2 separate regions of the Homo sapiens genome follow, and region 2 is linked to region 1. Evidence: fine-mapped QTL for protein levels in blood plasma. A gene starts in region 1. The other region holds a variant in brackets. All regions are shown on one strand. Distances are between the middles of the regions. Region 1 holds the start of RBP7 (retinol binding protein 7). Region 2 overlaps RBP7 (retinol binding protein 7).

The links. PIP is the chance, under the fine-mapping model, that this variant and not a neighbour inherited with it causes the effect. Protein levels are from antibody-based Olink assays in UK Biobank. Linkage for the fine-mapping came from a reference panel and not from the study's own genotypes, which makes the PIPs less certain.
Region 2: its variant is fine-mapped to the plasma level of the RBP7 protein (UK Biobank, PIP above 0.99). The variant lies in the coding sequence of RBP7. If it changes the protein, the assay may bind it differently, which can mimic a change of level.

What each region holds. Positions count from the first base shown.
Region 1 is chr1:9,987,599-10,002,254 of GRCh38, forward strand. It overlaps RBP7 (retinol binding protein 7), which reads left to right and starts at 9,630. Exons shown (of 4, transcript NM_052960.3): 1 at 9,630-9,733. The coding sequence starts at 9,661. LOC124903840 (basic salivary proline-rich protein 2-like) reads right to left here and starts at 10,491. Exons shown (of 2, transcript XM_047436754.1): 1 at 10,084-10,491; 2 at 9,121-9,254. The coding sequence starts at 10,432. The coding sequence ends at 9,121. It also overlaps a transcript of NMNAT1 not described here. RefSeq lists silencers at 3,673-3,967, 11,379-11,579.
Region 2 is chr1:10,003,293-10,019,765 of GRCh38, forward strand. It overlaps RBP7 (retinol binding protein 7), which reads left to right. Exons shown (of 4, transcript NM_052960.3): 2 at 4,278-4,456; 3 at 4,881-4,982; 4 at 12,490-12,729. The coding sequence ends at 12,540. Among named protein-coding and RNA genes, the nearest start is that of RBP7, 14 kb to the left of the region's middle. RefSeq lists a silencer at 4,005-4,205. The variant G/A (reference allele first, on the strand shown) is at 4,962.

The DNA of each region.
Region 1 (14,656 bases):
CACTGCACTACAGCCTGGGTGACAGAGCAAGACTCCGTCTCAAAATAAATAAATAAATAAATTAAATTAAATTAAATTAAATTAGCCAGGCATGGTAGCTTGTGCATGTAGTCTGAGCTACTTGGGAGGCTGAGGTGAGAAGATTGCTTGAGCCTGGGATCTGGAGGCGTAGTGAGCTGTGATTACCCCACTGCACTCCAGCCTGTGTAGCTGAGACCCTGTTTCAAAAAAAATGAAATAGTGCAGCTAAAAGTATCAATGTCACCAAAGCAGAAGACCCAAGTCTCCAGCCACACTTTTGTTGAGACAATAGTATTCATAAAGTGATTTTCAAAATTTTTATTTACTTACTTATTTCCCACTTCATAAGCTGGTCTAGCATGAAGTATGGTTTTTTTAGTTGTTGTTGTTTTTTTTGAGACAGAGTCTTGTTCTGTCACCCAGGCTGGATTGCAGTGGCACGATCTCAGCTCACTGCAACCTCCACCTCTCAGGTTCAAGAAATTCTCCTGCCTCAGCTTCCCGAGTAGCTGGGATTATAAGCGCACACCACCGTGCCCAGCTAACTTTTGTATTTTTAATAGAGACAGGGTTTCTCCATGTTGGCCCGGCTGATCTCAAACTGACCTCAAATGATCCACCTGCCTTGGCCTCCCAAAGTGTGGGGATTACAGGTGTGAGCTATCACACCCAACCAAAGTAGTATTTTATTTAACATTTATATCTTCAGCAACTTAAGCATGTTCGAAACTGAACCATAATTTTGCTCTCAAATGGATAAATAATCATAAGAAAGCTGCTTAAGAAGAAAGGGTACCTTGGCTGGGTGTGATGAATCATGCCTGTAATCCCAGCACTTTGGGAGGCCAAGGCATTTGGATCACCTAAGGTCAGGAGTTCGACACCAGCCTGGCCAACATGGTGAAACCCCGTCTCTAATAAAAGTACAAAAATATTAGCCAGGCATGGTGGCAGGCACTTGTGGTCCTAGCTACTCAGGAATCTGAGGCAGGAGAATTGCTTGAACCTGGGGAGGCAGAGGTTACAGTGAGCCAAGATCGCGCCACTGCACTCCAGCCTGGGTGACAGAGCGAGACTCCATCTCAAAAAAAAAAAAAAAAAAAAGGGTACCTTGATTTTTTTTTTTTTGAGATGGTCGCAGGTTCAAGTGATTCTCGTGCCTCAGCCTTCTGAGTAGCTGGGATCACAGGCGTGTGCCACCACACCCAGCTAATTTTTGTATTCTTAGTAGAGATGGGGTTTTGTCATGCTGGTCTCTAACTCCTGGCCTCAAGTGATTCTCCCACTTCTGCCCCTCCAAGTGCTGGAATTACAAACATGAGCCTCTGTGCCCAGCCAAAAGTACCTTGATTTTATTTATGATATTGCTAAGGAAAGGAGGCAGAGAAATTCTGGGCAGAAGAGGGTGGGTCCCCAATGAGGGCTCCCCACCTGGAGCTGAAAAGCCTGATACTATGGCCCAAAGTGAGCATTTACATCCCTGTTTGCCCTCTTGAAAGTTGCCTTTTCCATAACTACCCATGGCCCACCCCCCATCCTGTGCCCATGAAAACCCCAGGCTCAGCTGGGCACAGTAGCCTGTAACCCTAGCACTTTTGGAGGCCAGGGCGGGCAGATCACTTGAGGTCAGGAGTTCAAGACCAGCCTGGCCAACATGGCGAAACCCCACCTGTACTAAAAATACAAAAATTAGCCAGGCATGGTGGCGGGCGCCTGTAATCCCAGCTACTCAGGAGGCTGAGGCACGAGAATCACTTCAACCCAGGAGGCGGAGGTTGCACTGAGCCAAGATCGCGCCACTACACTCCAGCCTAGGTGATAGAGCAAAACTCAGTCTAAAAAAAAAAACCAAGCTCAGCCAGCAGAGAGTGGAGAAGCAGCTGGATATTGGAGACTACGGTTGGACGGCAGAAATAAGTGGCTTGACTTCAGAGGGACAGCTTCATGGTGTAGCTTTGAAGAGGAGTCCAGCCAGGGACGGCTGGACTTCAGGGGAAGATTACCTTCTTGCTCCATCCTCCTTTCAGCTCCTCTTCCCACTGAGAGTCACTTTCATTGGCAATAAATTTCCATGCATTTACCATCTTCAATTCATTTGTGCTACCTCATTCCTCCTGGACACTGGACAAGAACTTGGGTACCACAAGTGCGGGTACAAAAGCCTGTCACACTGACCCTCCACTGAGCTGTTAACACTTAAGCTGTCCACAGCAAAGCTAAAAGGGCATTGTAACACCCCTTCTGGGGCTTCAGGGGTTGCAGGCACCCTCACCAGATGCTGCTGCGGGGCCCACACAAAGTTTTGCTCCTTCAGGTGCCCAAAAGCACTTGCCCCAGCTCCTGCACCCGCTCACCTGCATGCTCCGCCTCCCATAAGGGGTGGAACACAGCAGGTCCAAGTGAGTGGAATGGCCCCTGCCAGCGCCAAAGTGGCTGGCTAGTTCCAGCGCCCCTGCATTCCAGTTCCTGCCAATGAAGGGGTCAGGGAAATACCCTGCTTCAAAATGTATCAGAATTTTTTTTCATTGCAAGTAGCAGGAAGCTCAACTCAAAGTGATCTAAACACGGACATCTATACTCAGAAGTACAGACATAGGGCAGAATGGAAGGTGTGTAGGTTTGTAGGTGCTGTGAGTCAACACTGTCATCGGGGACCCGGGTTCTTTCCATCCCTCTACACTTCCAGTCACAGTGTCTTAAATCTAGTGCCCTTGAGTTATAGGAGGGTCACCAGTAGCCAGGCTTCCTAGTTCATGTTCAGGAGTGACTCCTCATGGCTCCCCATGGCTCTGTTAAAATCAAAGAAACATCTTTTCCAACAGCCCTTTCAAACTCCTCATCGCATCTCACTGGCTGATTCAGTCATTTAAACCTGCTTCTCCCTAAAGCTGATCACTGGCTAAGCTAATAGGGTTTCCGGGATTGGTTTAGCCTGATACTAATCCAGGTCTACCTTCAGGAGCCAGACCAAACTGCCTATTGGCATTGCATTCTTGCAGTAGGGAGGGGAGGTATGGATGGTGTGGAGTCCACCACAAGGTCCATGCCAGTCTTTGCTGAACCAGCATCAGACTCCATCAAGCAACAGATGAGAGGTTCCATGATAAAGTGGCCCTCAGCAATCCCCATCCATTGCTGTCTAGGAAGAACAGTGCTTGTACACAGGTTTAGGACCTCAGTCTTGGCTGTAATCTTCTGGTTTACTTTGCCAGCACCAAACAGAAGGAAAGAAAGGGCTCAAATTTGACCAAATAAATTATGCTTCTCCTTCCAGAGATAACCTTGAGTCCTGTCTAGGAAGATATTAGAATTGTAAAGAAAAAAAAAATTACTCCTTATCCTATGGCAAGTGGAGTCTATGTCTACTTCAGCTGAAATTAAATCCTGTCCATAATAGATGACCCTTGCTCAAGCTGGCCAGAAGCCATACCAACCAGCACGAAGGTTAAAACTATTATTAGTTTTTTCTGTGATTTTCATTTTCAGGCCAAGTTTTAGAACAATAAGATTTTAAGAATAGGAAGTAAGTAAGATTTCTGCATATCCTGTTCTCTTAGTCAGCTGAATTTTTTTTTTTTTTTTTTTAGACAAAGTCTTGCCTCTTCACCCAGGCTGGAGTGCAATGGTGCAATCTCAGCTCACTGCAACTTCTGCCTCCCGGGTTCAAGCAATTCTCTTGCCTCAGCCTCCCCAGTAGCTGGGATTACAAGCCTGGCTAATTTTTGTTTTTAGTAGAGATGGGATTTCACCCTGTTGGCCAGGCTGGTCTTGAACTCTTGACCTCAAGTGACCTTCCTAACTCAGCCTCCCAAAGTGCTGGGATTACAGGCGTGAGCCACCGCACCAAGCCTGGAATCTATGTCTTACAGTTATGAGAATCAACAGCTAGCTCATTATGGGCAAGGTGATGTCACTCTGGCTTCTCAATGAAAATGGCATTTCTCCCTTGGAAAAGGTCATAGCCAGTCAGTCAGTCAGTCAACAAACATTTATTGAGTACTTACCAGGCACTGTGCTAGACCCTGGAGATACAGGAGTGGTGAATGAAATCAACATGGGCTCTGCCCTGGAAAGCTTCATGGAAAAGGCAGTCAATAAAAAAGAAAAAAGATAATTATGGATTATAATAATGATAAAGGACGTAAGCAGAGATGTGATGTGGAGTAAGTGTGTATTAGGAGCATATAGGAAGGCTGTTCTGAGAAGATGGCTCTCAAGTTCTTGAAGATATCCAAGTACTTTTCTGTCCACATTCTAAACCAACTGAAAAATAAGACGAAAAAAAAAAGCAACAAAAGGGCTGAGCACAGTGCCTCACGCCTGTAATCCCAGCTACTCTAGAGGCTGAGGCAGGAGAATTTCTTAAACCTGGGAGGCAGAGGTTGAGCCACCCCACTCCAGCCTGGGTGACAAAGCGAGACTCTGTCTCTAAATAAATAAGTAAGTAAATAAATACTTTAGGTTTAGATTTTTTTTTTTTTTTGAGACGGTCTCAGTCTGTCATTCAGGCTGGAGTGCAATGGTTCCATCACGGCTGACTGCAGCCTCGACCTCCCAGGTTCAAGCGATCGTCCCACCTCAGTCTCCCGAGTAGCTGGGACTACAGGTGCATACCACCACACCCAGCTAGTTTTTTTATTTTTTATAGAGACAGGACATTGCCATCTTGCCCAGGCTGATCTCAAAATCCTGGGCTCAAATGATCCTCCCTCCTCGGCCCCAAAATGCTGGGATTACAGGCATGTGCCACCACGCCCAGCCTAGGATTATAATTTTTTTATAGATTACCTCTACCTAGTTGACGAAAACGGTTCAGTGGCTGTTGCCCCGAGAGCAAGCATTCATCCCAGTTTACCAGGGGCTTTTCCAATGTTAGCAGCAAGAGTTCCATGTCCCAGGCACTCCTTCAGTCCTAGTTGTTCCAATCCTAAGAGGATGAGCAGAGGCCAGGGGCGTTTAGGGACAATTCCTCTCCATGGAGACCATGACTAGAAAAGACTGTACCCCTATGGCCGGGCGTGGTGGCTCACGCCTGTAATCCCAGCACTTTGGGAGGCCGAGGTGGGTGGATCACAAGGTCAGGAGATCGAGACCTTCCTGGCTAACACAGTGAAACCCCATCTCTACTAAAAAATACAAAAAATTAGCTGGGTGTGGTGGCGGGTGCCTGTAGTCCCAGCTACTCAGGAGGCTGAGGCAGGAGAATGGTGTGAACCCAGGAGGCGGAGCTTGCAGTGAGTGGAGATCGCACCAATGCACTCCAGCCTGGGCAACAAAGCGAGACTTGGTCTCAAAAAAGAAGAAAAAGAAAAGAAAAGACTGTACCCCTAATAGTGACTTTTGAGCTGGAAGCCAAAGGAGCTAACCAGGCAAAAACTAGGAGGAAAAACATCTCAGAAAGAGGAGACACCAAATACCAAGACTCTGAAGGAAAGGGTGTGATGTGATTAGAGGAACTGAGTTGGGGGAGACAGGATGTACTGCTGGTGGAGGAGTAGCCAGGAGCCAAACCAGGAAGGACTTTGTGAACCTAACCATGAGAGAGAGTGCAAATTTCCTTTTAAGAAAAACAGGACAGGCCAGGAGCGGTGGCTCGCACCTGTAATTCCAGCACTTCAGGAGGCCTAGGTGGGTGGATCACCTGAGGTCAGGAGTTCGAGATCAGCCTGACCGATACGGTGAAACCTCATCACTACTAAAAATATAAAAATTGGCCGGGTGTAGTGGCATGCGCTTGTAGTCCCAGCTACTCGGGAGGCTGAGACAGAATTGCTTGAATTCAGGAGGTGGAGGTTGCAGTGAGCCAAGACTGTGCCACTGCACTCCAGCCTGGGCAACAGAACAACACCCCATCTCAAAAAAAAAAAGAAAAGAAAAAAGAAAGACAGGACAATACTGAAGGGCTGTAAGCAAGGAGTGAGAAGATCTGAATTACATTCCTTAAAAGCTTGCCGGGGCTGCGTATGGAGAATTGTTTTGAGGGACTCAGAAGGGAAGCAGCAGGTCCAGATGAAAGATTTTTATAAGTGGTCCTGGCAAGAGATGATGGGGACTTGGGTTAAGATGGTAGAACCAAGAGGACTTGCTGAGGGACTGGATTTTGGCCAGCAGAGAAGATGGAAATTCACAAATCTACTGGATTCTTAGCTTGAGCATCCAGGGGCCTAATGGAATGTATGGAGATAAGGAGAGCTGGAAAAAATTTTGTTCTTACACTTTCTAGCTTAGCTGCGTCAAGTTTCAGATGCCTTTAAGATAGCCAAGTGGAGACGTCAAGTAGGAGGCGAGAGGTGGCACTGAACGTGCAGGCAGGTTACCTGGGTTTGAATCCAGACTCTGCCAACTATATGACCTCGGGCAAGTTAGTTAACCTCTCTATGCCTCAGTTTTTAGCTCTGTCAAAGGGAGTTAATAAAATAACTATTGGAGAAGTAGGATTTTGCAACAAATAATAATACACATAGCACTCAACAAATGTTAGCTTTTTTTTTTTTTTTTTTTTTTTTTTTTTGCAACAGAATCACTCCGTCTCCCAGGCTGGAGTGCAATGGTACAATCTCTGCTCACTGCAACCTCTGCCTCCCGGGTTCAAGTGATTCTCCTGCCTCAGCCTCTCCAGGAGCTGAGACTACAGACGTGTGCCACCACACCTGACTAACTTTTGTATTTTTTTAGTAGAGACGGGGTTTCACCATGTTAGCCAGGCTTGTCTCAAACTCCTGACCTCAGGCAATCCACCCATCTCAGCCTCCCAAAGTGCTGGGATTACGAACGTGAGCCACTGTCCCCAGCCAAATGTTAGCTTTTATTTTTTATTTTATTATTTTTGAGACAGAGTTTGGCTCGTGTTGCCCAGGCTGGAGTGCAATGGCACGGTCTTGGCTCACTGCAACCTCTGCCTCCTGGGTTCAAGCGATTCTCCTGCCTCAGCCTCCCACGTAGCTGGGATTACAGGTGCCCGCCACCATGCCTGGCTAATTTTTTGTATTTTTTGTATTTTTTTTTTTTTTTGAGACGGAGTCTTGCTCTGTCCCCCAGGCTGGAGTGCAATGGCGCGATCTCGGCTCACTGCAAGCTCCGCCTCCTGGGTTCACGCATTCTCCTGCCTCAGCCTCCCGAGTAGCTGGGACTACAGGTGCCCGCCACCACGCCCGGCTAATTTTTTTGTATTTTTAGTAGAGACAGGGTTTCACCATGTTAGCCAGGAAGGTCTTGATCTCCTGACCTCGTGATCTGCCCGCCTCAGCCTCCCAAAGTGCTGGGATTACAGGCTTGAGCCACTGCGCCTGTCCAATTTTTTGTATTTTTAGTAGAGATGGGGTTTCACCATGTTGACCAGGCTGGTCTCAAACTCCTGACCTCAGGTGATCCACCCACCTCGGTCTCCCAAAGTGCTGGGATTACAGGTGTGAGCTACCATGCACGGACTGCTAGCTTTTATTATATTTGAGTCTGGAACTCATGGGAGAGGTCATAAATTGACATATAAATCTTGAGCTGGACACAGTGGCTTACACCTGTAATCCCAGCACTTTGGGAGGCCAAGGTTGGAGGGTTGCTTGAGCCTAGGAGTTTGAGACCAACCGCCGGCAACACAGGGATACTCCATCTCTATAAAAAATTAAAAAAATTAGTCAGGCATGGTGGCACATGCCTGTAGTTGTAGCTACTTAGAAGGCTGAGGCAGGAAGATCACTTGAACTCAGGAGGTTGAGGCTACAGTGAACCATGATCATACCACTGCACTCCAGCCTAGGCAACAGAGCAAGACTCTATCTCAAAAAATAGTCAGTCTGGGTGTGGTGGCTCATGCCTGTAATTCCAGCACTTTGGGAAGCTTAGGTGGGTGGATCTTTTAAGGTTGGGAGTTCGAGACCTACCTGGCCAACATGGTGAAACTCCACCTCTTCTAAAATATATAAAAATTAGCCAGGCATGGTGGCAGGTACCTGTAATCCCAGCTACTCAGGAGGCTGAGGCAGGAGAGTTGCTTGAACCCAAGAGGCGGAGGTTGCAGTGAGCCAAGATTGCACCATTGCACTCCAGCCTAGGCGACAGAGTGAGAGTCTGTCTCAAAAAATAAAATAGAATAAAATAAAATAAAAAGAATAAATGAAAAAATAAATACCGCGGGTGCGGTGGCTCACACCTATAATCCCAGCACTTTGGGAGGCTGAGGCAGGCGAATCACGAGGTCAGGAGCTCAAGACCAGCCTAGCCAACATGATGAAACCCCCATCTCCACTAAAAATACAAAAAATTAGTTGGGCATGGTGATGGGCACCTGTGATCCCAGCTACTCGGGAGGCTGAGGCAGGAGAATCACTTGAACCTGGGAGGCGGAGGTTGCAGTGAGCCGAGATGGAACCACTGCCCTCCAGCCCGGGGCGATAGAGTGAGACTCCCTCTCTGCCGGGCGCAGTGGCTCAGGCCTGTAATCCCAGCACTTTGGGAGGCCAAGGCGGGCGGATCACAAGGTCATGAGATCGAGACCATCCTGGCTAACACGGTGAAACCCCGTCTCTAATAAAAATATAAAAAGTTAGCCGGGCGTGTTGGCGGGCGCCTGTAGTCCCAGCTACTCGGGAGGCTGAGGCAGGAGAATGGCGTGAACCCCGGAGGCGGAGCTTGCAGTGAGCCGAGATCTCTCCACTGCACTCCAGCCTGGGCACAGAGCGAGACTCCGTCTCAAAAAAAAAAAAAAAAAGAAAAAAGAAAGAGTGAGACTCTGTCTCAAAAGAAAAAAAATAAAAATAAAATCAATAAGTCAGTCTTGGAGCCAGCATATCTAGGCGGTGTTTGTGGCTAATGTTGTAGGTTAGCCCATATTCCCACCCCTTCTCCTTTGCTTTTCTCTGCTCTGAGGCTAAATGCTGCAGACTAGAATCCCCAGGCCCCCTTGCAGTTAGAAGTGGCATTGATACAGTTTTGGCTAATGAAATGTACACAGAAACCTGCTGGGTAATTTCTTTTCTTTTTTCCAACTATCCAGACTTATAGGAGATGGGGAGGTTTGTGCTGCAGGGATACTGACCTTTGGTGCTTTCCCTCTTCCCTACCTTGAATGTGGATGTCCTGGCTGGGAACCCAGCTGCCAGCTCATGACCAGGAGGTAACAAGCAGGAATAAAAGGCCACCAGAGTCACAGAGACGAAGCTGCGGCGTTACCGAGGTGCGAATCACTGTGATTCCTAGGTGCGAATCATCACCAGCAATCACTTCTCTCAGGACTCCTTGTTAAGAAAAATAAACTCCTATTTATTGAGACCATGAGAGTTACGTTGAGAGGTATATTGTTATTGAAGCTGACAATATTCAATGCCATGAGTTTGAAGATCATCCCTGGGTCATTAACATATAAGCAGGGAAGAAAATGTGGCCCGAAACAGTCTGGGACATGAGAAAGCAGTAGGAGAGGAAGCCCCAAGGAAAGGGGGAAGCTGCCGCGCGGTGGGCAGAGCCAGGAGCACCGGGCTGAGGCGGCCGGGAGCGCAGCGGCTTCTAGGGGTGAGTGGGACCCACGCGGCCCCACCTGCTCCTCCCGCGCGCGGCCCCACCCCCCTGCCCCGCCCCGCCTGGTTTATAGGTCCCGGCCCGAGCCTCCGGCCGCCCGCCGGGTTTGTCCCGCGATCCCCGACCATGCCCGCCGACCTCAGCGGTACTTGGACCCTGCTCAGCAGCGACAACTTCGAGGGCTACATGCTGGCCCTAGGTAAGGCGGAGGGGAGGCGGCGGCGGCGCGAGGCTCGCCGTGGGTCTCGGGATCAGGCGAAGGCGGCCGGGCCGGGCCTGTAGGTACGTCCTCTGTCCGTGCCTCCGCCCTGCTGCGCCCACCGTCGCCCAGTCGCCCCCGAGTCCGCTGGTCCTTGGCGCCTCCGTCCATCGGGCGCGGGACCCCAGTCCTTCAGTCCCCCAGTCCGTCCTTTCCCGCGCCCACCCGCCCCCCTGTCCCCACGGCCGTCTCTCCACGCCCTCTGTTCCCCCGGCCGTCGGTCCCCCACCCGTCCGTCCCTGAGTGCCCGCGTCCAGCCCCACGTCCGTCTCTACCCGCACGCGGCACACCTGCGGAGACTGCAGACTCGGGGTCCGGCCGGGGAGGGGGGTCCGGCCGGGGAGGGGGCGCCCGGGACCGAAGCCTCTGCCCGGCCACCCTCCCCGCAGCCGCCTTCCGTGCAGGCCCCGGGGCCCCGGGCGCGCTCCCGCAGCGAAGTCCCAGCAGCCTCGGCGCACCCGGAGCGGGTCGGGGATGCAGAATCCTGGAGCCAGCGGACGACCCTTCAGGTCCGGGCACCCGCGGGAGTGCAGAGCCTGGTTCGGCCCGGGGCGTGCCCCGACCGCCGCCTCCCACGAGGGCTGGGTGCCCGCGGCGTTCTTGCTCCCGGGGGCCCCGCGCTGTGCTTCCCGCCCTCATCGCGGTGCCAACGGTGCGCGGACTCTCAACTCACTGCAACCTCCGCCTCCTCGGTTCAAGCGATTCTCCTGCCACAGCCTTCCAAGTAGCTGGGATTACACGCGTGCGCCAGCCACCACGTCCGGCTAATTTTGTACTTTTAGTAGAGAAGGGGTTTCACTATATTGGTCAGGCTGGTGTCCAACTCCTGACCTCAGGTGATCCACCCGCCTTGGCCTCCCAAAGTGCTGGGATTACAGGTGTGAGCCACGCGCCCTGCCACGAGTGTAGTTTTTCTTGTAGCTTTAGGAATCTGGGAAGTTGCCGTGCCGGCCAATCCCTGAACCCTTGACCCGTGGGCAATTTTTGTTTTCTTTTTTTCTTTCTTTCTTTCTTTCTTTTTTTTTTTTTTTTTTGAGACGGAGTCTCGCTCTGTTGCCCAGGCTGGAGTGCAGTAGTACGATCTCGGCTCACTGCAAGCTCCGCCTACCGGGTTCACGCCATTTTCCTGCCTCAGCCTCTCCGAGTAGCTGGGACTATAGGCGCCCGCCACCACGCCCAGCTAATTTTTGTATTTTTTAGTAGAAACGGGGTTTCACCATGTTGGCCAGGCTGGTCTCGAACATCTGCCCTCGTGATCTGCCCACCTTGGCCTCCCAAAGTGCTGGGATTACAGGCGTGAGGCACCGCACCGGCCAATTTTTGTTTTCTTAACCTTAGGGCCCATCTTAGTTGATAAAGGGGCATTTATTTTGCTCTTTCATATCCCAAGAGATAAGAGTGTTCCTCTGGGTATGGGAAAAGCACCTCTCACTTGAGAGTCTTATGATCTTCTTCAGAGGAAGAGCAGAGAATTCTTTTATGGCCTGCTTCAGGGAAGAGGGGCAAAAGAAGGTCTGAGGGGGACCTTCCTGCTACTGTTATTTCCTCAAATGCCAAGTGATATGGTTTGGCTGTGTCCCCACCCAAATCTCATGGGAGTTGTAGTTCCCATAATTCTCATGTGTTGTGGGAGGGACCTGAGGAGAGGTAATTGAATCATGGGGTAGTTTTCCCCACACTGTTCTGGTGGTAGTGAATGTCTCATGAGATTTGATGGTTTTACAAGGGGTTTCCCCTTTCATTTGGCTCTCATTCTCTCTTGCCTGCCACCATGTAAGACGTGCCTTTTGCCTTCTGCCATGATTTTGAGGCTTCCCCAGCCACGTGGAACTGCGGCAGTTAAACCTCTTTTTCTTTATAAGTTACCCACTCTTGCCAGGCTCGGTGGCTCACGCCTGTAATCCCAGCACTTTGGGAGGCTGAGGCGGGTGGATCAACTGAGGTCAGGAGTTCAAGACCAGCCTGGCCAACATGGTGAAACCCCGTCTCAACTAAAAATACCAAAAAGAAATTAGCTGGGCATGGTGGCGGGCGCCTGTAATCCCAGCTACTTTGGGAGGCTGAGGCAGGAGAATCACTTGAACCTAGGAGGCAGAGGTTGCAGTGAGCTGAGATGGTGCCATTGCACTCCAGCCTGGGCAACAAGAGTGAAACTCTGTCTAAAATAATAATAATAATAAGTTACCCACTCTTGGATATGTCTTTATCAGCAGCGTGAAAATGGACATAAGGTGCCATGTTCTGAGGTCGCCTATCCAGAAACCCTTAAATCCAGAACGGTTTTCTGAAAACCAGCAACTGTGTTTCAACTTCAGATCTAATTTGTTAAAGTACTAAGTACTTACATCAATTTGTTAAAGTGCTAAGTACTTAGGTCACACTTATAGCACTAGAGTGGTTGTTTACATAATACTGTAATACTCTTTTTTTTTTTTTTTTTTTTTTAGATGGAGTCTGGCTCTATTGCCTAGGCTGGAGTGCAGTGGCGCGATCTCGGTGTGAGCCACTGTGCCCAGCCATAATACTATAATACATTTTATCTTAAGAATTAAGTTGGTCTGGGTGCAGTGGCTCACACCTGTAATCCCAGCACTTTGGGATGCTGAGGCAGGTGGATCATGAGGTCAGGAGTTCAAGACCAGCCTGGCCAACATGGTGAAGCCCCACCTCTACTAAAAATACAAAAAATTAGCTGGGCATGATGGCATGCACCTGTAATCCCGCTACTTGTGAGGCTGAAGCAGGAGAATTGCTTGAACCCAGAAGGTGGAGGTTGCAGTGAGCCGAGATTGCGCCATTGCACTCTAGCCAGGGAGACAAAGCAAGACTCCATCTTGAAAAAAAATAATTAAGCTAGCAGACTGGGCAGGTGGCTCACGCCTATAATCCCAGCACTTTGGGAGGCCGAGGTGGGTGGATCACCTGAAGTCAGGAGTTTGAGACCAGCCTGGCCAACATGGTGAAATACCCCATCTCTACTAAAAGTACAAAAATTAGCTAGGCATGGTGGCTCATGCCTGTAGTCCCAGCTAATTGGGAGGCTGAGGCACGAGAATCGCTTGAACCTGAGAGGTGGAGGTTGCAGTGAGCCCAGATCACGACACTGCACTCTAGCCTGGGCAACAGCATGAGACTTGGTCTCAAAAAAAATAAGTCAATAAGACAAAAAAAAAAATTCAGCTAGCAATCTTGAATTTTACTGATTTACTTGAATATATAATTAACTTTAAATTTATATGCTTGTTCATGTACATGTAAGGAAAATACATTCCATAAAAAATCACAGATATAGTACTTAGATCTTTAAACTGTAGGGTCTAGGAAAATAATAAATGATCGCCTCTTTTTTTGTTGTTGTTGTTGAGATGGAGTCTCTCTCTGTTGCCCAGGCTAGAGTGCAGTGGTGCGATCTCGGCTCACTGCAACCTCTGCCTCCTGAGTTCAAGCAATTCTCCTGCTTCAGCCTCCTGAGTAGCTGGTATTACAGGTGCCCACCACCTCTCCTGGCTAATTTTTGTATTTTTAATAGAGACGGAGTTTTACCATCTTGGCCAGGCTGGTCTTGAACTCCTGACCTCGTGATCCACCCGCCTTGGCCTCCCAAAGTGCTGGGATTACAGGCGTGAGCTACCGTGCCTGGCTGATTGCCTCTTTTTTAGTAGTAGAAGTGAGGTAAATGCCTGTTGGCAGTGATGCTAAGGGTCAAATAAGTCACCAGCAAATACACAGCACACATCTCATGATGTGCTCCAGCTGGCATCTCATTTGAGGGCAGAAAATCACTCCCTTTTGTCTAAAAACTAGTGTTCAGGAACTGATCCTGCAGCTCCCACCCGGGCTCTGGCATCACTCTCTCCCAGCATTTGCCAAACCGCAGTGAGAAGAAAGGCAGCTTGTCTTTGCACAAAGAAGCAAGTTTACTTGGGTTTTTTGAGATAGGGTCTTGCTCTGTCGCTCAGGCTGTAGTGCAGTGGTGCGATCATGGCTCACTGCAGCCTTCACTTCCTGGGCTCAGGCGATCCTCCCACCTCAGCCTTCCAAGTAGCTGGGACAACAGGTGCATACCACCACACTTGGCCAATTTTTCAATTTTTTTGTAGAGACGGTGTCTTGCTGTGTTGTCCAGGCTGGTCTCAAACTCCTGGCCACATGCAATCCTCCTGCCTCTGCCTTGCTTGGGTTTTAATATTTGGAGCTAACCTGGGATTTGGGAGTTCCTGGTGTACCCCCACAGCAGCCAAGGACACTGAAGGTGCGTGCTTCAGAAATGGAGAAGCCCCATGTTAATGCCCACAGATATTGACTAACTTGTGCAAGTCCTCGCCTTTAGTCCTGTTATGAACCCAAGAAGGTGGTGGTGTTACTAACTTGTCCCAGATTACTGTGTACACTGGGATATATTTATTTAATTTAATTAGTTTATTTATTTATTTATTTATTTATTTATTTATTTTTGAGACAGAGTCTCCCTTTGTTGCCCAGTCTGGAGTGCAGTGGCACGGATCTTGGCTCACTGCAACTCCGTCTCCCGGGTTCAAGCAATTCTCCTGCCTCAGCCTCCCAAGTAGCTGGGATTACAGGCACACGCCCCCACACCCCGTTAATTTTATATTTTTAGTACAGACAGGGTTTCACCACGTTGGCCAGGCTGGTCTCGAACTCCTGAGCTCAGGTGACCTGCCTGCCTCGGCCTCCTAAAGTGCTGGGATTACAGGCATGAGCCACCACATCTGGCCCTACACTGGGATTTAAAGGGATCCCTTCTTGCCTTCAACCCACATTGCCTTGAGATTAGAAGTGGCTTTGAGATTGAAGGTTAATATAAACATCTGAAGCTTAGATAAATGTACGTTTGTGTGGACT
Region 2 (16,473 bases), 17 kb after region 1:
GTGGGCACCTGTAGTCTCAGCTACTCAGGAGACTGAGGCAGGAGAATCATTTGAATCCGGAGGCAGAGGTTGCAGTGAGCCAAGATCGTGCTGCCATTGCACTCCAGCCTGGGTGACAAGAGCAAAACTCTGTCTGAATAAACAAACAAACAAACAAACAAAAACAAAAAAACCACCCCTTACTCTGCATGTAACTAGAAGTGGGTATAAATATGACTACAAAACTGCCCTGAGCTGCTACTTTCTGCCTATGGGGTAGCTCTTTTCTGCGGGAGCAGTCACAGAGCTGTGACACTGCTTCTTCAATAAAGCTGTTTTCTTCTCCCTCTGGCTTGCCCTTGAATTCTTTCCTGGGCAAAGCCAAGAACCTCTGCAGGCTAATCCCCGCTCTGGGGCTCACCTGCCCTACATGAGTAGTGCAAATTGTAAATTTGCTAACAACAAATTGCCTCACATATTTTATTTTATTTATTTATTTTTTGAGATGGATTCTTGCTCTGTCACCTAGGCTGGAGTGCAGTAGCGAGATTTCAGCTTGCTGCAACCTCCACCTCCCGGGTTCAAGAGATTCTCCTGCCTAAGCCTCCCGAGTAGCTGGGATTACAGGCACCCCCCACCACGCCTGACTAATTCTTGTATTTTTAGTAGAGATGGGGTTTTGCCATGTTGGCCAGGCTGGTCTCGAACTCCTGACCTCAGGTGATCTGCCCTCCTCAGCCTCCCAAAGTGTTAGGATTACAGGTGTGAACTACCACGCCTGGCCTGCCTCACAATTTTTTTTTTTTTTTTTTTTTTTTTAGATGGAGTTTTGCTCTTGTTGCCCAGGCTGGAGTGCAATGGCGGGATCTCGGCTCACCGCAACTTCCGTCTCCCCGGTTCAAACAATTCTCCTGCTTCAGCCTCCTGAGTAGCTGGGATTGCAGGCATGCCCCACCACGCCCAGCTAATTTTGTATTTTTAGTAGAGACGGGGTTTCTCCATATTGGTCAGGCTGGTCTCCAACTCCCGACCTCAGGTGATCGCCCACCTCTGCCTCCCAAAGTGCTGGGATTAAGGCATGAGCCACTGCGCCCAGCCAGATTGATGGATTGATTGATTTTGAGATGGAGTTTCCCTCTTGTTGCCCAGGCTGGAGTGCAATGGTGCAATCTCAACTCACCTCAACCTCTGCCTCCCAGGTTCAAGCGACTCTCCTGCCTCAGCCTCTGGAGTAGCTGGGATTACAGGCATGCGCCACCATGCCCGGCTAATTTTGTATTTTTAGTAGAGACGGGGTTTCTCCATATTGGTCAGGCTGGTCGCGTTGGTCTGCCCGCCTCGGCCTCCCGAAGTGCTGGGATTACAGGCATGAGCAACCGTGCCCGGCGCCTCACAGATTTTAAAAGCGTAACTCTAAACTCATTGTTAGTCTAAAGTTATTGGGTTTTGATTTGCTTACATAATAGGGTTTAAGGAAAGTCAGCAGTAAGTTTGGCTTGGTCATATTAATAATAGGAAATGAGCCTGAGTAACATGGTGAAACTTCATCTCTACCAAAGAAAAATTCAAAAATTAGCCAGGTGTGGTGGCACATGCCTGTAGCCCCAGCTACTTGGGAGGCTGAGGTGGGAAGATCTCTCGAGCCTGGGAAGCAAAGGCTGCAGTGAGCCGAGATTGCACCACTGCAGTCCAGCCTGGGCAACAGAATGAGACCCTGTCTCAAAAAAATAATAATAATAGGAAGTGATTTTAAGGTTTTGGTCTCAATACTTAAATATTTAAATATTGTTGAAAACCAGTAAAGCCTGGATCATATTGCATCTCAAACTAAAAACTGGAGTTCTAGATTTAAACACACACACACAAGCTTTTTTATTTGCAGCTGAGACTACAGGCATGTACCACTATGCCCAGCTGTTTTTTTGAGATATTTGTTTGTTTGTTCATTTGTTTGTTTTTGAGATGGAGTTTTACTCCGTCCCCAGGCTACAGTGCAGTGGCTCGACCTCAGCTCACTGCAACCTCCGCCTCCTGGGTTCAACTGATTCTCCTGCCTCAGCCCGACCCAGGTGTGAGCCACCATGCCCAGCCTCAGCTGTTTTTATTTTTTTATAGAAATGGGGTCTTGCTATGTTGTCCAGGCTGGTCTTGAACTCCTGGGCTCAAGTGATCCTCCCACCTTGGCCTCCAGAAGTGTTGGGATTACAGGTATGAGCCACTGTGCCTGGCTACAAAAATTTTTTCTTAGGATGAGGACATTTATACTATTGTTTTATTTTTGGTTGTTGTTGTTTGGGTTTTTTTTTTTTTGAGACGGAGTCTTGCTCTGTTGCCCAGGCTGGAGTGCAGTCGCACGATCTCGGCTCACTGCAGCCTCCACCTCCTGGGTTCAAGCAATTCTCCTGCCACAGTCTCCCGAGTAGCTGGGATTACAGGGGTGCACCACCATGCCCAGCTAATTTTTGTTTTTCAGTAGAGATGGGGTTTTGCCATGTTGCCCAGGCTGGTTTTGAACTCCTGACCTCAGGTGATCCACCTGCCTCTGCCTCCCAAAGTGCTGGGATTACAGGCATGAGCCACCACGGCTGGCAGAATCACGTCTCATCTCTAACTCCTCTCCTTCCTCCTCCCTCTCCCCGATTCTGCGGCAGATACACTAGGCTCCTCAGAGTTCCCGAAACACACTGGCACACCCTTCCTCAGAGTCCCAGGGCTCCCTGGATTTCTGCCTTAAACTATTTTCCCAGAAATCTGTGTGGCTTGATTCTTTACTTCTTTCAGCTCCCCGCTGAGACGTCACCTGGCCATTATTTAAAATAGTGGTGTTTATTTCTAGCTACATAATATGCTCAAAGGCAGTAAGTGGAACTGGGATTCCAAACCCTGATCTTCATCTTCTTAGCATTCCATGTTTCCCTGTGGAACTCTTCTTTAAAGCTTATTTAAGAATTCTAGCCGAGCAGGGTGGCTCATGTCTGTAATCCCAGCACTTTGGGAGGCTGAGGTGAGAGGATTGCTTGAGCCCAAGAGTTCGAGACCAACCTGGGCAACATAGTGAGACTTGATCTCTACAAAAAAATATTTAAAACATTTCCAGGCATGGTGGCATGTGCCTGTAGTCCCAGCTATTCGAGAGGCTGAGATAGGAGAATCACTTGAGCCTGAAAGGTTGAGGCTACAGTGAGCCATGATTGCACCACTGCACTTCAGCCTGGGTGACAGAATGAGATCCTGTCTCAAAAAAAGAAAAAAATTATAAATACATAGTAGTATATAGCTGGGTGTGGTGATGCAAGCCTGTAATTCCAGTTACTCAGGAGACTGAGGCAAGAGAATTGCTTGAACCCGGGAGTGGAGGTTGCAGTGAGCTGAAATCGTGCCACTGCTCTCCCCAACCTGGGCGACAGAGTGAGACTGTGTCTCGGAAAAAAAAAAAGAAAAAAAAAAGTATATACGTGTGTGTGTGTGTGTGTGTGTGTGTATATATATATATAGAGAGAGAGAGAGAGAGAGGTATATACATGAATCCAGTGGTTTTTGAGTTTTGTTTTCATTCTTGTTGAGAAACTGTTCAAATGCTCTCTTAATTCAAAGTGTAAATACATAAGGCAGAAAAAGGCAGAGTTATGACTGAGGCTGGGTTGGGGGGCCTAAGCCCTGTCCCTTTGGTTTTCTTTTTCTTTCTTTTTTTTTGAGATGGAGTCTCGCTCTGTTGCTCAGGCTGGAGTGCAGTGGTGTGATCTTGGCTCACTGCAACCTCCGCCTCCTGGGTTCAAGCAATTCTCCTACTTCAGCCTCCAAAGTAGCTGGGATTACAGGTATGTGCCACCATGCCCGGCTAATTTTGTATTTTTAGTAGAGATGGGGTTTCTACATGTTGATCAGGCTGGTCTCAAACTCCTGACCTCAGGTGATCCGCCCTCCTCAGCCTCCCAAAAGTGCTGGGATTACAGGTGTGAGCCACTGCACCTGGCCTACAGTTTTTATTTTTTTATAGAGACAGGGTCTTGCTATGTTGCCCAGGCTGGTCTCAAACTCCTAAGCTCAAACAATCCTCCTGTCTTCTGTGTCCCAAAGTGCTGGAATTACTGCACCTGGCATTTGCAAACTTTTTAATCAGGCTGTGGTTGGCAGTTTGCCAAGACGATTCCTTGTAGATCTGATTTTGGCAGCAAACAACATAGAAGTCGTACAGGAAATGCTAACAATTACATGTGGTGATTTTGAGAACAGCTACCAAATTCTTCACTTTTGTATCTCAAGCGAATGTTCAAATATTTTTAAAAATTATTTTTAAGGTATTGACTTTGCCACTCGTAAAATAGCCAAGTTGCTGAAGCCACAGAAAGTGATTGAGCAGAATGGGGATTCTTTTACCATCCACACGAACAGCAGCCTAAGGAACTACTTTGTGAAATTTAAAGTTGGAGAAGAATTTGATGAAGATAACAGAGGCCTGGACAACAGAAAATGCAAGGTAAAATGTAAAGAAATGCCAGGTGCGGTGGATTACGCTTGTAATCCTAACACTTTGGGAGGCCAACGCAGGCGGACCACCTGAGGTCAGTAGTTTGAGACCAGCCTGGGCAACACGGCAAAACCCTGTCTCTACAGAAAAAAATTCAAAAAGTAGGGGGGCGTGCTGGCAGGAGCCTGTAATCCCAGCTACTTAGGAGGCTGAGGCAGGAGAATCACTTGAACCCGGGAGGTGGAGGTTGGTTGCAGTAAGCCAAGATCGTGCCACTGCACTCCAGCCTGGGTGACAGAGTGGGACTCCATCTCAAAAAAAAAAAAAAGCAGTAAGTAGGCTGTTGATTTTGCAAGGGTAACTTGGCATTCTACTTCGTAACACTTGAGGATCCTGCCAGGACAAGCTAACATTTTCTCCTCTCTTCATGCAGAGTTTGGTTATCTGGGACAATGACAGGCTCACCTGTATCCAGAAGGGAGAAAAGAAGAACAGAGGCTGGACCCATTGGATC[G/A]AAGGAGACAAACTCCACCTGGTATCCACCACATTTTGTTCTTAATGAGATGATACAGTATTAAAGGAAACATCAGGCCAAGCGTGGTGGCTCACACCTGTAATCCCAGCATTTTAGGAGGCCGAGGTGGGTGTATCACTTGAGGTCAGGAGACTAGCCTGGCCAACATGGTGAAACCCCATCTCTACTATTTTTTTTTTTTTTTTGAGATGGAGTATCGCTGTGTCACCAGGCTGGAGTGCAGTGGCGCGATCTCGGCTCACTGCAACCTCCACCTCCTGGGTCCAAGCGATTCTCCTGCCTCAGCCTCCCGAGTAGCTGGGACTACAGGCACGCACCACCACACCCAGCTAATTTTTGTATTTTTAGTGGAGACGGGGTTTCACCATGTTGGCCAGGATGGTCTCGATCTCTTGACCTCATGATCCACCCGCCTCGGCCTCCCAAAGTGCTGGGATTACAGGCATGAGCCACCACCACACCTGGCCCATCTCTACTGAAAATACAAAAATTAGCCGGGCATAGTGGCGCATGCCTATACTCACTCTCATCTTATATTAAATGAAACAGCCGAATATTCCGACAGAGGCAGGAAGATAACATGCAAATACTCATGGAACAATTCTTACCTATTATATGTAATAGCTACTTTATGTATACATAGATATGCATAGATAGATATAGTAGCTCACATCTTTGGAGTGATTATTTTGGGCCCAATTACTGTGCTCAATCCTTTGAGTGCATTATCTCATCTAATCTTCACAACCCTGTGAAAAGGACGCCATTTTTCCCATTCACAAATAAATTGGGATTTTGAAATTCCCCAAGGCTGCTGTCAGAAGCATCAGAATCCAGTTTAAAAGGGTTTATTCAGACTGGGCGAGGTGGCTCACGCCTGTAATCCCAGCACTTTGGGAGGCTGACGTGGGCGGATCACGAGGTCAGGAGATCAAGATCATCCTGGCCAACATGGTGAAACCCCGTCTCTACTAAAAATACAAAAATTAGCTGGGCATGGTGGCACATGTCTGTAATCCCAGCTACTTGGGAGGCTGAGGCAGGAGAATTGCTAGAACCAGTTAGTCGGAGGTTGCAGTGAGCCAAGATCGCACCACTGCCCTACGGCCTGGTGACAGAGGCCGTTTCAAAAAAAAATAAAACAAAATAAGGGTTTATTCAGGCATGAAGATGAGAATGGCCACCCAGGAAACACAGACTCCAAAGAAATGGGGTCAGTACACCCAAGCTGAAAAGTTAATGTCTTATTTTTTTTTTTTTTTTGAGATGGAGTCTCTCCCTCTGTCACCCAGTGTCACCCACGCTGGAGTGCAGTGGTGTGATCTCAGCTCACTGCAACCTCTGCCTCCTGGGTTCAAGCGATCCTCCCACCTCAGCCTCCCGAGTAGCTGGGACTACAGGCATGCACCACCACACCCAGCTAGTTTTTGTATTTTTAGCAGAAACGGGATTTTACCATATTGGCCAGGCTGGTCTCGAACTCCTGACCTCAAGTGATCAGCCCACCTGGGCCTCCCAAAGTGTTGGGATTACAGGCGTGGCCGCTTGTAATAAAAATTTAATTTCTTGGAATGTAATTCTTGGAGTTTTTCTTTTCCTTTCTTTTTCTTTTTCTTCTTTTACTTTTAAGCTGTTGGACTTGAGGTGTTTTTCTTTAATGGCTTTATTGAGGTATACTTTATGTACCAAAAAATGCACCTGTTTTAAGTGTACAGTTTGATAATTTCTAGTAAATGTATACAGGTGTACAACCATTCCCATTATCCAGTTTCAGACAAGTCAATCACTCCAAAACATTCCCTAGAGGCCATGTGCTGACAACTATTATTTTACAGCCTGTTTTGTTTTGTTTTGTTTTTGAGATGGAGTCTTGCTCTGTTGCCCAGGCTGGAGTGCAGTGGCATGATCTCAGCTCGCTGCAAACTCTGCCTTCTGGGTTCAAGCAATTCTCCTGTCTCAGCCTCCCAAGTAGCTGAGACTACAGGTGCATGCCACGACACCTGGGTAATTTTTGTATTTTGAGTAGAGACAGGGTTTCACCATATTGGCCAGGCTGGTCTCAAACCCCTGACCTCAGGTGATCCACCCGCCTCTGCCTCCCAAAGTTCTGGGATTACAGGCGTGAGCCACTGTGCCTGGCCTGTTTTTGTTTGTGTTTTTGAGACAGAGTCTCCCTCTGTCATCCAGGCTTGAGTGCAGTGGCGCAATCTCGGCCCCCTGCAACCTCCACCTCCTGGGTTCAAGGGATTCTCCTGCCTCAGCCTCCCAAGTAGCTGGGATTACAGGCACCCGCCACCATGCCCAGCTAATTTTTTTTTTTTTTTTTTGAGACGGAGTTTCGCTCTTGTTGCCCAGGCTAGAGTACAATGGTGCGATCTCGGCTCACCACAACCTCCACCTCCCGGGTTCAACGATTTTCCTGCCTCAGCCTTCCCAAGTAGCTGGAATTACAGGCATGCACCACCACGCCTGGCTAATTTTGTATTTTCAGTAGAGACGGGGTTTCTCCATGTTGGTCAGGCTGGGCTTGAACTCCCGACCTCAGGTGATCCGCCCACCTCGGCCTCCCAAAGTGCTGGGATTATAGGTGTAAGCCAGCATGCCCGGCCATGCCCAGCTAATTTTTGCATTTTTAGTAGAGACATGGTTTTGCCATGTTGGCCAGGCTGGTCTCGAATTCCTGACCTCAGGTGATCTGCCCGCCTTGGCCTCCCAAAGTGCTGGGATTACAAGCGTGAGCCACCCGACAGACAGAAAACAAAGAAATTTCGCAGGATTACAACATTTTCTATACAAAGCTGTTTTATGAGTTACAGGAATTTGATTAGTTACCACTCAGTTTTTTCCTTTTTCTTTCCAGTTTAAAGAATATATTTAACATTCTTTATTTTATTTTTCTTCCCCCTCATTCTTGCTGTCATCTTAAGAGTATATTTAACATTCCATCTTAGACAACGTGATAGTCATCTGTCTTTGTATTAGAGAAGGAAGAGGTTCACCTGCTTTGGGAAAAAAAAAGAGAGAAGAAACAGGGAAGTGAGTCTGTAATTAAGATCAACAGTAGAGGGAAGTCTTCTCTGGTGCCCTTTAGTTTTTTACAAAACAGTGTAGGTAAAGAAAAAGGCTAATCTATAACCAGAGAAATTAAGGTTATAGCTGTCTAGGTTACAGCGGCCTTTCACATGACTCAGGTCCCACAATCACATTCCTTTAAGACTCAAAATAATTTAAAGTTTCATCAGCTTTGATTGTGAATTACGTATTTTCACACTGTAGGGTGAAGATTCAAATACAGGTCTGACAAGAATGTGTGCTCTCAGCTCTGTGCTTTTTTGCCTCACTGTATGTGTGAAATCTAGGTGAGACCCATGAGAACAAAACTAGAGCACTGTCCTTAAAGTTGGGTCTGGGTAGTCTTTGAATACCAAGGCCTTGAAGATATTTTGATTCTAGATGGACAAATCTCACACTCTTCTGACGATAAAAAAGTAAGAGGTCAGGCATGGGATTACGGGTTCACGCCTGTAATCCCAGCACTTTGGGAAGCTGAGGCAGGCGGATCACCTGAGGTCAGGAGTTCGAGACCAGCCTGGCCAACATGATGAAACCCCATCTCTACTATAAATACAAAAATTAGCTGGGCGGAGCCGGGCGCAGTGGCTCATGCCTGTAATCCCAGCACTTTGGGAGGCCAAGGTGGGTGGATCACTTGAGGTCGGGAGTTTGAGACCAGCCTGACCAACATGGAGAAACTCCCGTCTCTACTAAAAAATATTTAAAAAAAAAATCAGCTGAGAGTGGTGGCGCATGCCTCTAATGCCAGCTACTCAGGAGGCTGAGGCAGGAGAATCACTTGAACCTGGGAGGAGGAGGTTACGGTGAGCCGAGATTGCACCATTGCACTCCAGCCTGGGCAACAAGAGTGAAACTCCATCTCAAAAAAAAAAAAAAAAAAAAAATTAGCCGGGCTGTGGCAGGCACCTGTAATCCCAGCTACTCAGGAGGCTGAGGCATGAGAATCGCTTGAACCCGGGAGGCAGAGGTTGCAGTGAGCCAAGATCATGCCACTGCACTCCAGCCTGGGGGATACAGCAAGACTCTGTCTCCAAAAAAAAAAACAAAGTAAGAAACTTGCCTTCGCAAATACGTAATATGGAATTTCAAAGAATATATACATATGTTTGAGGATTTAGATTAGTTGGTTTGTAAGAGGTAATGTTCAAATTATGCACAACAGCTGGGTGTGGTGGTACTTGCCTGTAGTTCCAGTTACTGGATAGGCCAAAGCGGGAAGATTGCTTGAGCCCAGGAGTTTGAGTCAAGCCTGGGGAACGTAGGACTAGCCTGTCTTTAAAAAAAAAAAAAAAGAAAAGGAAGGCTGGGCATGGTGGCTCACACCTGTAATCCCAGCACTTTTGAGAGGCCGAGGCAGGTGGATCACCTGAGGTCAGGAGTTCGAGACCAGCCTGGCCAGCATGGCGAAACCCCGTCTCTATTAAAAATACAAAAATTAGCCTGGTGTGGTGGCAGGCACTTGTAATCCCAGCTACTCGGGAGGCTGAGGCAGGAGAATCACTTGAACCTGGGAGGAGGAGGTTGCAGTGAGCCAAGAGCCAAGATCGCGCCACGGCACTCCAGCCTGGATGACAAGAGTGAAACTGTCTCAAAAAAAAAAAAAAAAAAAAGAGAAATACCAAATGTGTACATCCTTCTCTAGCATACCCTGGAAATCTGCCCATGCAGGGCACAGAAGTACTTTTGTTCTAAGGATACTCATGGAATGCTTCTTACTTACCATGATTTTTTTTTTTTTTTTCAGACAGAGTCTCACTCTGTCGCCCATCCTGGAGTGCAGTAGCTTGATCTCAGCTCACTGTAACCTCCTCCTCCTGGGTTCAAGTGATTCTCCTGCCTCAGCCTCCCAAGTAGCTGGGATTACAGGCGCCCGCTACCATGCCCAGCTAATTTTTATATTTTTAGTACAGACAGGGTTTCACCATGCTGGTCAGGCTGGTCTCAAATTCCTGACCTCAGGTGATCCACCCCCCTCAGCCTCCCAAAGTGCTGGGATTACAGGCATGAGCCACCGCGCCCAGCCACCATGATATATTAAAAAATATTTGGTTGCTGGGTGTGGTGGTTCACTTCCGTAATCCCAGCACTTTGGGAGGACACGGCAAGAGGATCACTGGAGTCCAGGAGTTTAATACCAGCCTGGGCAGCATAGTGTGACTCTGTCTCTACAAAAAATTGGCTGGGGGCAGTGGCTCATACCTGTAATCCCAGAATTTTGGAAGGTCGGGGCAGGTGGATCATCTGACGTTAGGAGTTGGAAACTAGCCTGGCTAACATGGTGAAATGCTGTCTCTACTAAAAAATACAAAAATTAGCCGGGTGTGGTGGCGGGCACCTGTAGTCCCAGCTACTCAGGAGGCTGAGGCAGGATAATCACTTGAACCCAGGAGGTGGAGGTTGCAGTGAGCCGAGATCGCGCCATTGCACTCCAGCCCGGGCAACAAGAGCAAGACTCCGTCGCAAAAAATTAAAAAAAATTAGCTGGGCATGGTGATGGGTGCCTGTAGTCCCAGCTACTTGGGTGGCTGAGGTGGGAGGATTACTTAGGCCCAGGAAGTTGAGGCTAAGGTGAGCCATGACTGCACCACTGCATTCCAGCCTGGGCGAAGGAGTAAGACCCTGTCTCCAAATAAAAAAGGAGTAAGGCCTTGTCTCCAAATAAAAAAAAAGATCTTTTGTGTGTTAACGACATGACTGTCTACTGAGGGTCCTTAGATAGCTTCAGGATGGGGGATGGTCACCAGAAAATCGAAGGCATGATTAGAGGGTTGGAACTTTCAGCCTCATCCCTGAGGGAAGAGGGGCTGGAGATTGAACTAATCACAAATAGCCATTGACTTAATCAGTCATGCCTATGTGCTGAAACATCCACTAAAAACTAAACCACGGGGTTTAGAGAGCTTCCATGTTGAACGGTGAACATTCATGTGTGTGGTGAATACATTGAGGTGCTGGGAGGGCTGTGTGCTCCCCCTTCCTACTTTGCCCTATGCGTCTCTTCCATCAGGCTGTTTCTTTTCTTTTCTTTTCTTTCTTTTTTCTTTTTTTTTTTTTGAGATGGAGTCTTGCTCTGTTGCCCAGGCTGGAGTGCAGTGGCGCAATCTTGGCTCACTGCAACCTCCGCCTCTTGGGTTCAAGCAATTCTCCTGTCTCAAGTGTCCTGAGTAGGTGGGATTACAGGCATGCACCACCACACCCGGCTAATTTTTGTATTTTTAGTACAGACAGGGTTTTGCCATGTTGGCCAGGCTGATCTAGAACTCCTGATCTCAGGCGATCTGCCCGCCTCGGCCACTCAAAGTGCTGGGATTACAGGCATGTGCGCCCGGCCCCATCAGGCTGTTTCTGAGTTGTTTATTTTATAATAAACTGGTAATAGTAAGTAAAGGGACTTTCTGAGTTTTGTGAGCCCTTCTAGCAAATTATCAAGCCCGAGGAGGGGTTGTGGGAAAACCTGATTTGTAGCTGGTCAGTCAGAAATATGGGAGGTCCCAAATTTGCGACAGGTGTCTGAAGCTGGGGGGAGTCTCGTGAGACTGCATCCTTAACCTATGCAGTCTGTGCTAACTCTGGGTAGTTAGTGCCCAAATTAAATTGGCTTACTGGACACTTGGTTGGTGTCAGAGAGTTGGAGAAGTGGGACTGGAAAAGACATCACACAACTGGTGTCAGGCGTTTAAAAACCCACACCTTTGGTGTCAGAAGTGTTGAGAGTAGGCCAGGTGTGGTGGCTTATAACTATAATCCTAGCACTTTCGGAGGGCAAGGCAGGAAAATCATTTGAGGCTAGGAGTTCAAGACCAGCCTAGGGGTCAGGCGCAGTAGCTCATGCTTGTAATCCCAGCACTTTGGGAGGCTGAGGCGGGCAGATCATGAGGTCAGGAGTTCAAGAACAGCCTGGCCAACATGGTGAAACCCCGTCGCTACTAAAAATACAAAAATTAGCAGAGCATGGTGGCACACACCTGTAATCCTAGCTACTCAGGAGGCCGAGGCAGAAGAATTGCTTGAAGGCAATTCCGCTTAAAGGCAGAGGTTGCAGTGAGCCAAGATTGCACCACTGCACTCCAGCCTGGGCTACAGAGTGAGACTCCATCTCAAAAAAAAAAAAAAAAAGACCAGCCTAGGCAGTGGCAACCCTGTCCCTACAAAAAACACAAAAATTAGCCGGGCATGATGGCACGTGCCTGCAGTGTCCCAGCTACTTTGGGGGCTGAGGTGGGAGGATCGCTTGAGCCTGGGAGGCAGAGGTTACAGTGAGCCGAGATCTCACCACTGTACTTAGCCAGGACGACAGAGTGAGACCCCATCTCATAAAAGAAAAAAACATGTTCCAGAAAAGGGTTAAAACACAATAAAAAATAAGTGTTGAGAGTAAAAACAGACCACATGCAAACTGATCCTTCTTTTTCCCTTCCTCCTTACGCCCTAGGAAATGTTCTGTGAAGGTCAAGTGTGCAAACAGACATTCCAGAGAGCCTGATCCACATCCAGCAGCAGAGCCCACTTGTGGCTGCAGCTTTATGCCAAATTATATTGCAGACTGAACAGACGTTTATCTATCCCATTTGGCGACGAGGACTCGTGGCTGGAGAGAGCCACACAGCGTGTAACCTGAAGTCATCTAGATTATGGGGAAACTGCTCAGCTTCAATAAACCTGTCCAAATGACTCTGAAGTTTTTCCTTTCCGATTTAGGAAATCCCAGCATTTAAAAAAATATTTGAAAGTCTTCTAGGCACATGAGAGACACACCAGTGAACAAGCTGTCAGTCCTGCCTTCAAGGCTAGTGAGGAAGCTGGCCAAAACAAGCAACCTGAACAGCCACCAGAGCTCTGGGGGTGGGGGGCAGATGACTTTGAGGGATGGGCAGATGGTGATATTGACAGGGGTCTGGGATGGTGATTTTGTTTCTTTTCTTTTCTTTTCTTTTCTTTTTTTTTGAGACAGAGTCCTGCTCTGTCACCCAGGCTAGAGTGCAGTGGCTCCATCTCGGCTCACTGAAACCTCTGGCTCCTGGCTTCAAGCAATTCTCCTGCCTCATCTTCCCAAGTAGCTGGGATTATAGGCATGTGCCACCACACTCAGCTAATTTTTGTATTTTTAGTAGAGATGGGGTTTCACCATGTTGGCCAGGCTGGTCTCGAACTCCTGACCTCAGGTGATCCACCCACCTTGGCCTCCCAAAGTGTTGGGATTACAGGCATAAGCCACCGTGCCTGGCCAGCAGTTCCTCTTTTTTTTTTTTTTTAAACAACATTTAGAATCTCCCCAAGGGTAGCTTAGAGAAAAGAAAATCCAAGACAGGAAATCAGAAGCTATCTATGGGGGGAAAAATAACCTTAATAATGGCAAAGTTACACAAATAACAAACCAGAAAGGAATCATTCCAGAAGCCAAGAATTCAACCCAGATCACCCTTGTCAAAGGACAAAGCCTTAGCTACTGAGCTACACAGCATTGGGCAGTTTCCTTCTTTTTTTTTTCTTTTTTTTGACGGAGTCTCACTCTGTTGCCAGGCTGGAGTGCAGTGGCACAGACTCGGATCACTGCAACCTCTGCCTCCTGGGTTCAAGTGATTCTCCTGCCTCAGCCTCCTGAGTAGCTGGGACTACAGGTGTGTGACACCACGCCCAGCTAATTTTTGTATTTTTAGTAGAGATGGGTTTCACCAGGTTGGCCAGGATGGTCTCGATCTCTTGACCTTGTGATCCACCCACCTTGGCCTCCCAAAGTGCTGGGATTACAGGGATGAGCCACCGCACCCAGCCCTGGGCAGTTTCTATTGCTATTCCCAGAAGAAGTCTAGCCAAATTCAAGATTTCAAAGGCTCTTAACTGCTCAAGATAATTTTTTTTTTTTGAGACAGAGTCTTGCTGTGTTGCCCAGGCTGGAGTGCAGTGGCGTGATCTTGGCTCACTGCAAGCTCCGCCTCCCGGGTTCACGCCATTCTCCTGCCTCAGCCTCCCGAGTAGCTGGGACTACAGGCACCCACCACCACGCCTGGCCAATTTTTTTGTATTTTTAGTAGAGATAGGGTTTCACCATATTAGCCAGGATGGTCTTGATCTGCTGACCTCATGACCCACCCGCCTCGGCCTTCCAAAGTGCTGGGATTACAGGTGTGAGCCACCGCGACCGGCCTGCTCAAGATAATTTTTAGGGCTAACTATGACATGAACCCCAAAATTCCTGTCCTCTAGATGGCAGAAACCAAGATAAAGTATCCCCACATGGCCACAAGGTTAAGCTCTTATGGACACAAAACAAGGCAGAGAAATGTCATTTGGCATTGGTTTCAGGGACCCATAGCAACATTTGTAAATGACCAGCCTGATGGGCTGGCTTGAAAACTTGGCTTATAGGCATCCTAAACCCACGTTCTATCCCCTGATACTCCCCTCTTCATTACAGAACAACAAAGAAAGACAAATTCTTAGCATAAAGTACACCAGATTTGCTACAGCCTAAGACTGGTCTGACAAATCCTTTTTTTCTACTAATCAGACCCTCGCAGAGAAGACAAATAGTGGCATTTACCGTTTACACAACATATACAGAGAGAGAGAGACCAGAAACTTGGCTGGTAAGAATTTCTTCCTCTGGCCAGGAGCGGTGGCTCACACCTGTAATCTCAGCCCTTTGGGAGGCTGAGGCGGGTGGATCAGAAGGTCAAGAGATCCAGACCATCCTGGCCAACATGGTGAAACCCCGTCTCTACTAAAAATACAAAAATTAGCTGGACATGGTGGTGGGCGCCTGTAGTCCCAGCTACTCAGGAGGCTGAGGCAGGAGAATTGCTTGAACCCAGGAGGTGGAGGTTGCAGTGAGCCTAGATCACGCCACTGCACTCCAGCCTGGCGACACAGCGAGACTCCGTCTCAAAAAAAAAAATAATAAATAAGAAAAGGAAAAAAAAGAATACAACTCAGGAACAGCCAAATGGAGGAGATGCATGGGACAAGGTTTAGTGGGGGGCTGCGGAGCTTCCTTGCCCTCTGCAGGTGCACCACCCTTGCAGTGCGTGGATATGTTTGAGGCAGGAGACCAGGGTCTGGAGGCAGGGAACCTAAGGCTGTTTTGGGCTGACTTCCTAGAACTAAATTGAAAAGAAAATCCTAACTTTCCAAGCCTAAGTAACAAAAGGACCAGAGGCTACCCCTTTGCAAACCCCTACCTTTTCTGTGGCAGATGGGAAATTGTAAGTACCTCTAATTAATTAATTAATTGCCTTTTTTTTTTTTTGAGACAGAGTCTCTCTCTGTTGCCCAGGCTGGAGTGCAGTGGCACCATCTCGGCTTGCTGCAACCTCCACCTCCTGCGTTCAGGTGATTCCCCCACACTTACTGGGCTGCATTCCCAGAAGGTTAAGGCATTCTTAGTCACAGGATGAGATAGGAGGACAGCACAAGACACAGGTCACAAAGACCTTGCTAATAAAACAGGTTGTGGTAAAGAAGCCAGGAAAACCCACCAAAACCAAGATGGTGATGAGAGTGGCCTCTGGTCTTCCTCACTGCTCATCATACACTAATTATAATGCATTAGCATTAGCACCCACCACGCCCAGCTAATTTTTGTATTTTTAGTAGAGACGGGGTTTTACCATGTTGGCCAGGATGGTCTCCATCTCTTGACCTCATCATCCGCCCACCTCTGCTTTCCGCAACCAATCGGACTGATTACAGGCCACTACTTCACCTCATTTACATGGGTGAACACCCAGTGGCCAATGGGAAACCTCTAGTGGGTATTTGGACTGGAGAAAATTCTGTATCCAGGGCCCTTGAGTGGCTGCTGGGGCCCGCTCCCACCTGGTGAAATGTACTTTCATTTTCAATAACTCTCTGCTTTTGTTGTTTCATTTTTTTCTTGGTTGTGTGTTTTCTTAAACTCTTTTTTTTTTTTTTTTTTTTTGATGGAGTCTTGCTCTGTCACCCAGGCTGGAGTACAGTGGCGTGATCTCGGCTCACTGCAACCTCTGCCTCCCAGGTTCATGCCATTCTCCTGCCTCAGCCTCCCGAGTAGCTGGGACTACAGGCACCCGCCACCACGCCCGGCTAATTTTTTGTATTTTTAGTAGAGACAGTGTTTCACTATGTTAGCCAGGATGGTCTCAATCTCCTGACCTCGTGATCTGCCCGCCTCGGCCTCCCAAAGTGCTGGGATTACAGGCGTGAGCCACCGCACCTGGCCCTTGTTAAATTCTTTGTTCAAAATGCCAAAAACCTGGACACCCTCCACTGGTACTGAAGCTCACTGAACCTCCTTGTTCAGGAGTTTTCATAGAGCTCCATCTCCAGCCCCCTTCCCTCCCAGGAGGTTGGGGTGGGGCTGTTTCCACCCTCTAATCAAAGTCCTCTAATTTGGTCTTTCTGGTGAGCAGCCCCAACCCTGAGTCACATCATTAGCATA